Homo sapiens: one gene and its partners. The protein of the gene in region 1 interacts with the protein of each later gene in a biochemical or structural test. Each region holds a gene or a part of one and is shown in the gene's direction. Other genes may lie near its edges. The genes, in order: DUSP19, MAPK9 and MAP2K7.

The links.
Region 2: of the proteins of DUSP19 (region 1) and MAPK9, one has a biochemical effect on the other in vitro, tested with the Homo sapiens proteins (one study listed by BioGRID).
Region 3: the proteins of DUSP19 (region 1) and MAP2K7 form a complex in vitro, tested with the Homo sapiens proteins (one study listed by BioGRID).

The regions. Positions count from the first base shown.
Region 1 is NC_000002.12:183,085,189-183,088,837, forward strand, and holds part of DUSP19 (dual specificity protein phosphatase 19), read left to right. Parts: intron 1-1,851; coding exon 1,852-2,004; intron 2,005-3,649.
Region 2 is NC_000005.10:180,239,984-180,243,632, reverse strand, and holds part of MAPK9 (mitogen-activated protein kinase 9), read left to right. Parts: intron 1-877; coding exon 878-1,060; intron 1,061-2,477; coding exon 2,478-2,602; intron 2,603-3,645; coding exon 3,646-3,649. UniProt on the Homo sapiens protein: Serine/threonine-protein kinase involved in various processes such as cell proliferation, differentiation, migration, transformation and programmed cell death.
Region 3 is NC_000019.10:7,910,340-7,913,988, forward strand, and holds part of MAP2K7 (dual specificity mitogen-activated protein kinase kinase 7), read left to right. Parts: coding exon 1-34; intron 35-113; coding exon 114-233; intron 234-356; coding exon 357-464; intron 465-640; coding exon 641-820; intron 821-910; coding exon 911-991; intron 992-1,075; coding exon of another isoform or gene 1,076-1,096; coding exon 1,097-1,239; intron 1,240-1,809; coding exon 1,810-1,855; intron 1,856-1,957; coding exon 1,958-2,092; 3' UTR 2,093-3,649. UniProt on the Homo sapiens protein: Dual specificity protein kinase which acts as an essential component of the MAP kinase signal transduction pathway. Essential component of the stress-activated protein kinase/c-Jun N-terminal kinase (SAP/JNK) signaling pathway.

The DNA.
Region 1 (3,649 bases):
TTAGAATAGATGAAGCTGCCTGGGGAAAAGTGTAAAGTAAGAGAGAAGAGGGCCTATGACAGAATCTTATCACAGAACTGATAAATTGAGGAATATCACCCTATATGGAATGATCAAACAAAGAAGAGTCCGCAGTGGGAAAGGAGGATCTAAAAGAGGCCCAAAGAAGGTAAAACAAAAAGATGGTGTCATGGAAACTAAAGAGAATAGTGTTTTAAGGAGGAGAGAGTCAGCAATGTCAGATGCTGTAAAAGTTTAAGTACGATTAGGACTAAATTATATCCATGGGACTTGGTGACAGAGAGGTTGTTAGTGCGTTTGGTGGAAACAGTTTCATTTGAATTGGAGGCCAAAGCCATATTGCAAAAGATTGAGAAGTGAGGAAGTGATGGCAAAGGGAAAAAAAAAAAGAGAGAGAGGAGCCATAGGTGAGGAGGGGGAGGGGAGAGCTTTGAGCATGTTTTAAGGCTGATGGTAGAAGAAGGAATTGAAGATACAGAAAAGCAAGAATTATGACTATAGGGAGATGCCAAGAAAGTAGGAAGCACTGTGACTCCAAGCACAGGTTCTGGAATGAGCCTTATCGAAGATGCACGAGCACATCCTTCATTGTAATCAGAAGGCAGAGGGGAAGTACAGATGTGGACAAGGTTGTTAGGTTTTTTTTTTTTTTTTTTTTTTTTTTTTTTTTTTTTGAGGCAGAGTCTCGCTCATTTGCTCAGGCTGGAGTGCAGTGGCATGATCGTGGCTCACTGCAACCTTTACCTCCTGGGTTCAAGTGATTCTCAGCCTTTGGATTATCTTAATGGACTGTCTGCCTGGCTTTCTTCCACATGGTTGGTGGACTCTAGGAAAAGGGGCTCAAATACATAGATGCAAGAGGAGGAGGTTGCTCAAGTGTACCATCTGAAAGAAAATATTTTACAACCACACCTCCCCTTACTTTTCAGCCAGATTGGTTCATCAGAATCTCTGGGTATGAGACCCTGTGTTATTGATAGTTTTTAAGAGTTCATCAGGTGACTCTAATGTGCAGTCATCCTGGAGAACCATTTTATAAAGTAAAGAATATGAAGGAAAATAGGGAAATAATTCTTGAAAGGGAAGTTGTATACCACTGATACACTTCTCCTATTTAAGTTTTTATATGGATATTCACAGATTAATTCAACAAAGATTTTAAGCATTTTCTGCTAAACTCACTGCTCATTCGCTTATAACACTAAGTTAAACATGGTCCCTACCCTCATGGAGTTTCTAGTGCAGTGAAAGAGAAAAACAATCTCTAAATGGCATGAGCTATAATAGGGCAAGTCCAGGGCTATGAAAATATATAGGCCAGGTGTGGTGGCTTATACCTGTAATGCCAGCACTGTGGGAGGCGGAAGTGGGAGCATCACTTGAGGCCAGGAGTTCGAGACCAGCCTGGGCAAAAAAAGTGAGACCCGCCCCCCTCTTCTCTGAAAAAAAAAAAAAAAAAAAAAATTAGCTGGGTGTGGTGGTACACGCCTGTAGTCCCAGCTACTTGGGAGGCTGAGGCAGGAGGATCACCTGAGCCTAGGAGTTCAAGATTGCAGTGGCCTATGATTGCATCATTGCACTCCAGCCTGGGTGACAGAAAGAGACCCTGTCTCTGCATGATGATAATAATAAGTTAAAAGAGAGAGAGAGAGAGAGAAAACATATAGTAGAAGGAGCACTTCTGGTGTGGGATTGAAGCAGTATTATCATTCAAGTGAGTCGCATTTAAATTTTTTACCTTTCTTGTTATAGATATCAACACCCCAGTCTCTTTTTAGGTAACCTAATTCATGGGATTTAAAACAATCATCTTTTTTCTTTCTCTTTAAGGTGACTCATATTCTTAATGTTGCATATGGAGTTGAAAATGCTTTCCTCAGTGACTTTACATATAAGAGCATTTCTATATTGGATCTGCCTGAAACCAACATCCTGTCTTATTTTCCAGAATGTTTTGAATTTATTGAAGAAGCAAAAAGAAAAGTGAGTTTTGTTTTGATCCATAGTTCTGCAGAAGCAGAAATTTGAAAGTGTGGATCCATTACCCAATCTTTATTATTTTTATAATGAATCTCTAAAAAACAATTATGAAATTTCCCTTCTAACAATATTTCATTATTTCCTACAATTATTTGGTTAATTGCTCTTTTTTCAATGAGATGTTTAGTTTCAACATTAATTCAGACTATAAAACAGAGACTGCTCTAGACTTGTTAGTGTATTTATGATGATTAATATGCATTTGATTTTAATGAATGAGATAGTTATTGTGAAACTATGCATTTTTAGCAGTAAAATTTTAAGGCACTCTAAGGACTAAATGTGTATTGCTTTACTTAGATTGTATGAAAATGCTGATCAGAAACTGTCTGTTGGTTTTCTGAAGTTAGAAGACCAATAGCCAATGTCATATAGTACTTCAGGCTTGTTATTGAAGTCAACATTCTGACAGGCAAAGTTTCTAGGTTGGCTGTTATCAACAATTATTCCTTGAAATGTCATCATTTTTAGTCAGCAAATAATTCTTACAGACTTTATGTAAGATACGTAGATGGGAAAGTAGAAGCATTTACAGAGAGAAATAACTCTTCTGGAACACCTAACAATGACAGGATTACAATCAGGTTTAATTGAACTCTGGCCTACCTTCTCTCCCTTTATCTTTTCTCCTTCCCATTTTCTCTTCCTCTCTCCCTTCTTTCCTTTCATTTAGTAATATTTATTGAATGCCTTAGGTGCCCAGCACTGTTCTACGTGCCTTCCTACTAGACTACCCAGAAAATATAAAACTATTCAATTCTACTGTTCATCAACTTTACTTAATAGCAGATACAGTCATGCACTGCATAATGATGTTTGGACTGCATATATGATGGTGGTTCCATAAGATTATAATAATGTATTTTTACCATACCTTTTCTATGTTTATGTATGTTTAGATACACAAATACATACCATTGTGTTACTGTTGCCTACAAGTCAGTACAGTAACATCTGAACAGGTTTGTAGTCTTGGAGCAATAGGCCATACCATTCTAGGTTTGTGTGAGTGCACTCTGTGATGTTTACACCACGAAGAAACTGCCTAACAACACATTTCTCAGAATGCATCACCATTGTTAAATGATGCACGACTGTATTTGGATGGAAGCAAAGGAAGAGGTTTTTTTTGTTTTTTGTTTTTTGTGTTTTTTTTTTTTGTTTTTTTTTTTTTTGAGATGCAGTCTCACTCTGTCGCCAGGCTGGAGTGCAGTAGTGTGATCTCGGTGCACTGTAACCTCCGGCTCACTGCAACCTCCGCCTCTCGGGTTCAAGTGATTCTCCTGCCTCAGCCTCCCAGGTAGTTGGGACTATAGGAGCACACTGCCACACCCGGGTAATTTTTTGTATTTTAGTAGAGACAGGGTTTCACCGTGTTGCCCAGGCTGGTCTTGAACTCCTGAGCTCAGGCAGACCACCTGCCTCAGCCTCCCAAAGTGCTAGGATTACAGGCATGAGCCACTGCACCTGGCCAAGGGAGAGGTTTTTTAATTCAAAGCCTAATATTGGCCATTCTGTTTTCTTGTTAAAAAATTTACAGGCTCTGGATTGTAACATTCCAGTGTGTGAGTTAATAGTTTTAAAAATA
Region 2 (3,649 bases), on another chromosome or scaffold:
TCATGGTGATGTAAGTTCATTTTTCTAAGACATGCCTCAGTGAGCACTTTTTTAAGCTGCTGTTGATGCTATTTTTTTCTCACTTGCATTCTCTTGTATAGCGAGTACAGTTTCAGTGTCACTTTCCCACATGTAATCCTAATTATCCCAAGCCTAACAAGCACCCTGTGGAATAGGCAAAGCTGGTAATGTCTGCATTGAACAAATAAGGAAACAGACCCCAAGGAAGCCTGACTTTCCTGACACACTGAGTGTTTAATGCAGAGTTGAGTCTGAAACCCAGGTCACGCACTTTGAAAGGAAATAAAATGCATTACCTAGGGATCGCAGTGATGGTTGGGAAGAGTCAGTTCCAAGTAAAATAGAGCATCATTTGAAAGCTGTCGCTGGGCTCAGTCTAAGCCCAGTTGCTTGGTTCCCAGCTGTAAACTGAGGAGGTCAGATAGGTCTCTCCACAGGTCCCTTGAGATCCTCTGTTCTTTAGAGAGCTGTGAATGAATCTAAGGTAGCATTAGTATGAAAACTGATTTCAATTTGCTTATGTAATGTTTATCTAATTTCGTGTTTAATCATTTTTGCTATAGGTATTCTTAGTTATAAGATAAACTTTATTTTGAACTAGAGTGGGAAGGTGTGTAGACTTCATTGTGTTGATTTAATAAACTGTGATCATAGTTTATGAAGATGCAGAGTGTGAGAGTTTTAAAAAATAGTGTAACTTGGAAACCCAAACCTTATTTGAATATTATTTCAAAATTCCGCTGCTGATCCAGTGGGGTGGCCTAGTCGATAGGTTTAAATATTATTCAAGTGATGCTGCCGCATGTACTGTGAATACAAGGTACTTCAGTTGTATTTTCCTCAAGAAACTCCTTAGATATTGATCAGTGGAATAAAGTTATTGAGCAGCTGGGAACACCATCAGCAGAGTTCATGAAGAAACTTCAGCCAACTGTGAGGAATTATGTCGAAAACAGACCAAAGTATCCTGGAATCAAATTTGAAGAACTCTTTCCAGATTGGATATTCCCATCAGAATCTGAGCGAGACAAAATAAAAAGTAAGATATCCTTTTTTTCTTATACTTGTGTTTTGTAATTCAGGTGGTGCTTTCACTCTTTCATGTTTGTATTCTAAAAACCTGTGTTTTGGGAGAGAAAGTCATTTTAGGCCTGAAGTCTGAGGTACGAAGGCACTGAGGAGAGAAAGCTTAAAGGTCTAGAAGCTTTATCCTCTATAAGACGGCTTAATTGAAGCCTTTGGCCAAAATAAAAATAATCAAATCAGTCTGAAAGAATCTTATGTTACAGTTACAGCAACTGGAATTCAAAAAGTTTTCAGGTAAGAAGAACACTTAATGCAGATTCTAGAGTCAGAAGCGATGTGACAGTTGTTCGATGAAAAAGGTCCTTCCTCCCCACCTTCTCCTGCACCCTTTACTACAGTGTGATTGTTTAAGGAAAAAGAAAAGATTTGATTCTGTCCGCATGAAGGTAAACTGTGCCTTAATCAGAAAAGCCCCAGTCTTTGCTTATTCAGGTTGTGAACTTTAATTGACAAAACCTAGGTGAGCCTTATATTTAACTAAGTTATTGAACTTGTTTTTCTTTTTCCTAAATACCAATCTGTAGATTAAAAAAAAAAGTGTAAGTTGCCAGCACTGTATACAGCTAGGCCAGCCAGAAGCATCTGTGAGTGTTTTATCCTGTGGGAATGTGAGATTGTTGTGTGGTTTGAAAAGTCTGTTCTAATTTCATTTCGATGTGACTTAGAGAAAAATACTCCCCCGTGCCTCATGCCCACACTCTGGGCAGTGCCACCCGCAGCTCGGCAATTGCCACCTTCCTTGCTGTGGTTTCCCAGCCTTGGGCCCTGCCCAGACATTGGTCTGAGGCTGCCTGGTGCTCTTCCCCACCACCCTGGGAGCCCAGGTTTCTCTTCCCCTTGCAGATCCAGAGGCGTAAAACTACATTTGGAAACCTGGTTTGTCATGAAAGTGGACATTTGACTTTTTCTTAAAAATGTTTGGGTTATGGCTGGGTGCGGCGGCTCACGCCTGTAATCCCAGCACTTTGGGAGGCTGAGGCAGGCGGATCACGAGGTCAAGAGATCGAGACCATCCTGCCTAACACAGTGAAACCCTGTCTCTACTAAAAAAATACAAAAAATTATCCGGGCATGGTGGCAGACGCCTGTAGTCCCAGCTGCTTGGGAGGCTGAGGTAGGAGAATGGCGTGAACCCGGGAGGTGGAACTTGCAGTGAGCCAAGATTGCGCCACTGCATTGGGCGACAGAGCGAGACTCCGTCTCCGAAAAAAAAAAAAAAAATTTTGGGTTATATTCATCTTGAACCTATCAAACATTTCTCAAAATTAATATATCTTTGTTCTATCTGTGTTGTCATATTTAGTTCTTTATTGTATGATTCTGTTTGTTTCATATTAACAGCATTAATTTAATATTTGTTGTCACCCTAGCAAGTCAAGCCAGAGATCTGTTATCAAAAATGTTAGTGATTGATCCTGACAAGCGGATCTCTGTAGACGAAGCTCTGCGTCACCCATACATCACTGTTTGGTATGACCCCGCCGAAGCAGAAGCCGTGAGTATCTGTTTTGAAAAGATTTATATAGAGAGGCCAGGCTTATATTTCCTTGGATCTTGTCTGTCCGTCCAGAGTGGCTACATATGGGTAGCAAGTTCTCCATTTGGGGGCTCCCAGTTACAGAAAGGCCAAGTGTTGTCTGAGACCTGGGTCGCTTGCTCTTTTGCTGCTGGAGCCCCAGCTCAGAGTACCTCGGGAATGAACTTCCGCTTTGGTGCTACCAGTCTCCATTTTGCAAATGCTGCTGTGAGCTCATAGTTTATTAAGCATCTATTCTGTGCCATTGGCTTTGGTTACATCCTCTTGTTTAGGCCACTTAACCAGAGAGGCTGAGCAACTTGCTGAAAAATCACACGTCTGTTTATCCTTCCCTAAAGGCATTGTAGCTCCTGGTTCCCCCGCTGGAGGAGCTCCACTCTGAGTTTGGTGCTCACGTGCGTGTTTCTGTGTCAGCACTGGTGTGAGTGAGCTTTAGCTGTGAGGGAAATCACTGCGTAGTGGCAGGCTTCCTTCATGCCATGAGTGAAATACATGTTTATGTCATGGCCTGTGGTTTTGCCATCAGTTTAAACATTGTTTTATATAAAAAGAATCCAATTTATAAGCAGACTTTTATAACAGTCCATTTATGAGTTGGACATTGGATTTGGGAGTTCTCCCATGAAGAAAATGTAAAATTTGTTCTAAGAAACAACAGTACCTTCCATAGCTGCCAGCACAGTGCCTTGTCCATAATGGGTCTCTGGGAAACAGCCTGTGATGATGAGTTTCTAATGACATCTGGGCAGATGTCTGCGTTTTGAGGTCAGGTGATTATTAAGAGGAACATAATAACTCTTCTTTGGTTAACTTTTTCATAATTATTTTGATTCTAAAGTTGATATAATATCACATGACAAATCTTTATTAAACCACGTGTTGAATTAAACTAAATCCATATCATAAATAGACTAGAAGTCTTCCAAGCAATTTTACCTTTTTTAGTGCCTCATTTTTTTTTGAGGCATTACTGTTGACTTTACATATGATTTAATTTTTAGCCAC
Region 3 (3,649 bases), on another chromosome or scaffold:
CTTCCGGAAGACCGGCCACGTCATTGCCGTTAAGGTGAGCCTTGGCGGCTACCCCGGCTGCGCCCCACACCCCAGGCCGGTGCTGAGGCTCCCTCCTGTCCCTGCCTGTGCAGCAAATGCGGCGCTCCGGGAACAAGGAGGAGAACAAGCGCATCCTCATGGACCTGGATGTGGTGCTGAAGAGCCACGACTGCCCCTACATCGTGCAGTGCTTTGGGACGTTCATCACCAACGTGAGTACCTGGCCGCGCCCTGCAGCGTCTCCTCCTCCCTCACCCCTGCCCCTTCCTAGGGAGCAGAGCCTCTGGGGGGTGGGCCGGAAGACACAGCTCCCCCGGGTGCCCCTCTCCCTGCAGACGGACGTCTTCATCGCCATGGAGCTCATGGGCACCTGCGCTGAGAAGCTCAAGAAGCGGATGCAGGGCCCCATCCCCGAGCGCATTCTGGGCAAGATGACAGTGGCGGTGAGTGACCAGGCGGGGCTTGCACTGGGCAGGATGACAGAGGCGGTGAGTGACCAGGCGGGGCGTGCACTGGGCAAGATGACAGTGGCGGTGAGTGGCCAGGTGGGGCGTGCACCGGGCAGGTGGCCTTGGGTCTGTGCCCCCTGCCACATGCACCCCCCTCTGCGTGCCTGCAGATTGTGAAGGCGCTGTACTACCTGAAGGAGAAGCACGGTGTCATCCACCGCGACGTCAAGCCCTCCAACATCCTGCTGGACGAGCGGGGCCAGATCAAGCTCTGCGACTTCGGCATCAGCGGCCGCCTGGTGGACTCCAAAGCCAAGACGCGGAGCGCCGGCTGTGCCGCCTACATGGCAGTGAGTGGGGGCCCCCCAGCGGGGGAGGGGGTGGGGGCTGGGAGGCCGGCCCCAGCCTTGGAGATACGTCTTCTCCTCCCCCCCCTGCAGCCCGAGCGCATTGACCCCCCAGACCCCACCAAGCCGGACTATGACATCCGGGCCGACGTATGGAGCCTGGGCATCTCGTTGGTGAGTTGGGGCCCTCCCCTGTTCTCCAGCCAGGAGTGAGGGCTTCTGGGGGACTCGGAGGGAGGAGAACATAAACCTGTCCAGCCCTGCCCGTCTCCCTCCCAGGTGGAGCTGGCAACAGGACAGTTTCCCTACAAGAACTGCAAGACGGACTTTGAGGTCCTCACCAAAGTCCTACAGGAAGAGCCCCCGCTTCTGCCCGGACACATGGGCTTCTCGGGGGACTTCCAGTCCTTCGTCAAAGACTGGTGAGAACCTCCCTCCACTTGGGAGGTCAGGGACAGCCCGCTGCTCTGGGCAGCTGGGGAGGCAATGGCAGGAGGGGAATGGAGGCCGCACCCTGGGATGGGCGGATGCGACTGTGGGCGGGCTCCTGGCTGGCGGCTGCCACAGGAGCTGGAGCTGGTGCCCAGGGAGCCATGAGCTGGGTTTGGACCTAGCCTGAGGGGACAGCCAGCCCTGTGGCATTTGGCGGGGTGGCTGTTGGAGATTGTGAGCACGCTTCTGCAACAAGCACAGCTACAAGTTCAGGAGGGCCATGTTCGATTCTCTCAGGGGAGCCCCACCCACCTTTCTGGGGGACCTCAGCCAGCTCTGGCCCCCCAAGCCAGGCCCTTGCCACCTGGCCCTAGGCCAGGAGGCTCCGGGACTCACAGTTGCTCCCCGCTGTCAGCCGGGGTCCTGAGGACATCCACAGCTCCTTCCCCCACACACATCTTGGGGACCCCTGGCCCCTTGGGGAGGGCCTGAGCACAGGGGTGGGGCCGGCATCCCCTCCTCCCTCGTTCTCACATCTGTCTTCCCTTCTCTTGCTCTAGCCTTACTAAAGATCACAGGAAGAGACCAAAGTATAATAAGCTACTTGTGAGTACCTGAGCCCTCCCAGTCCCCGTCCTGTCCCTGCGGAGGCGCGAGGCCAGGAGGGAAGACCGTCTCCTCCTAAGCCCCACCCCCTCGGGCCCACAGGAACACAGCTTCATCAAGCGCTACGAGACGCTGGAGGTGGACGTGGCGTCCTGGTTCAAGGATGTCATGGCGAAGACTGAGTCACCGCGGACTAGCGGCGTCCTGAGCCAGCCCCACCTGCCCTTCTTCAGGTAGCTGCTTGGCGGCGGCCAGCCCCACAGGGGGCCAGGGGCATGGCCACAGGCCCCCCTCCCCACTTGGCCACCCAGCTGCCTGCCAGGGGAGACCTGGGACCTGGACGGCCACCTAGGACTGAGGACAGAGAGTGGGGGGTGCCCACCCACCCCCCCCGCCCCGGGCCTACCAAGCCCCCGCCCTTCCCACCCCGGGGTCAGCCGGCCGTGTGCGTCCCCCGACAGACACTGTGAACGGAAGACAGCAGGCCGCGATCAGAGTCGCTGTTCATTCAGCCGCAGCCTCTGGGCCGGGGCGGCCCCCAGGGGCCAGGAGAGAGCCCTGGAGTCCCGCAGCCACCATGCACGCTCCCAGCGTGCTGTGTCCTTCGCCACTCCCACGCGCCCGTTCCTCTTCCGTCGCCCTCTGTCCCCTGCTCTACCTCTCTGTCCTTGTCTGGCTCTCCCGTCACCCTCCCTGCCTCTGTCTCTCTTCTGGCCTGAGCCTGGGCCCAGCCACCTCCTGACGGGTCCCCTGGGTCTGCATAGGTCTCCCATGGCGCAATGAGTCAGTGGCCCCCAGCCAGGCAGTGTGGGCATTGCCACTGCGGCTGGACGGGGCTGCGCGCTCGCGCTCTCTCTCTCTCTCTCTCTCTCTCTTTGATCTCAGGGGGTCCTTTTTGGAGTTTATTGTATTTTATTGTACTTGGTGGGGTGTTTGGGGTGGGGGCGGAGGAGAGCTTGTTCTCGTGGGGTTGTCGGTACCTTCAGAAACTTTTACCAAAGTCACGATTAGCTGCTTGTGGTGGGGCCCCAACCGCCCTCGGGCACTGGGGAGCTGGGCTGGGGCTGCTGCTCTGGGGTCTCCGGGGGCCACAGCTTGGGGTGAGTTGAAGACCTCAGGGGATGTGGAGGGGTCTGCGGGGCCCTGGCCGCACAGGATGGCCTTCAGGGAAGGTGGTCTTGGGGCATGGTGCAGAGCAGGTGACCGGAGGGAATCGGTGACGGAGCGGGGCCAAGGGAGGGGTCCGGAGGGAGTCAGGGATGGAGGGCAGAGGGAGTGGATGTGGGGGTTTGAGGACGTGTGACAAGCTCCAGCAGGGGTGGGGGCCGGGCTGAGGGTGGGGGTGCGAGGTGGTCACTCCCATCGTGCCCCTGGCCGTCCCTCCACTCACCCACACCTGGCCCAGTCCACGTTGAGGTCCAGGACTGGGAAGGACCGGGTGAGTGCACCGGGGACCCAGGCCAGGTGCCCCCCGGAGCCTGCTGGGGTGGCCAGAGCAGGAGGGGGTGTGTTTCCTTTTTGTGGGTGTTGCATGCAAATCAAGTGGACAAGAAAAAATAACAAAACAAAAAACAAGAAAAAAAAAACACAAAACCCCGTAAAATCACAAAGAAAATCCAACACCAAAGGCGCAGAAGCCGGCTGGCCGTGGTGGGGGCAGCGTAGGCGTAGCATCCCTCTCCTCTCACTTAGCCTGTTGACTCTTGTTATTATCATGATATTCACAAAACGCCGCATGTTTAAAAAGTCATAGATGTCATCTTCTCTCTGCCCCCAGGGAGGAAAGCCACCTTC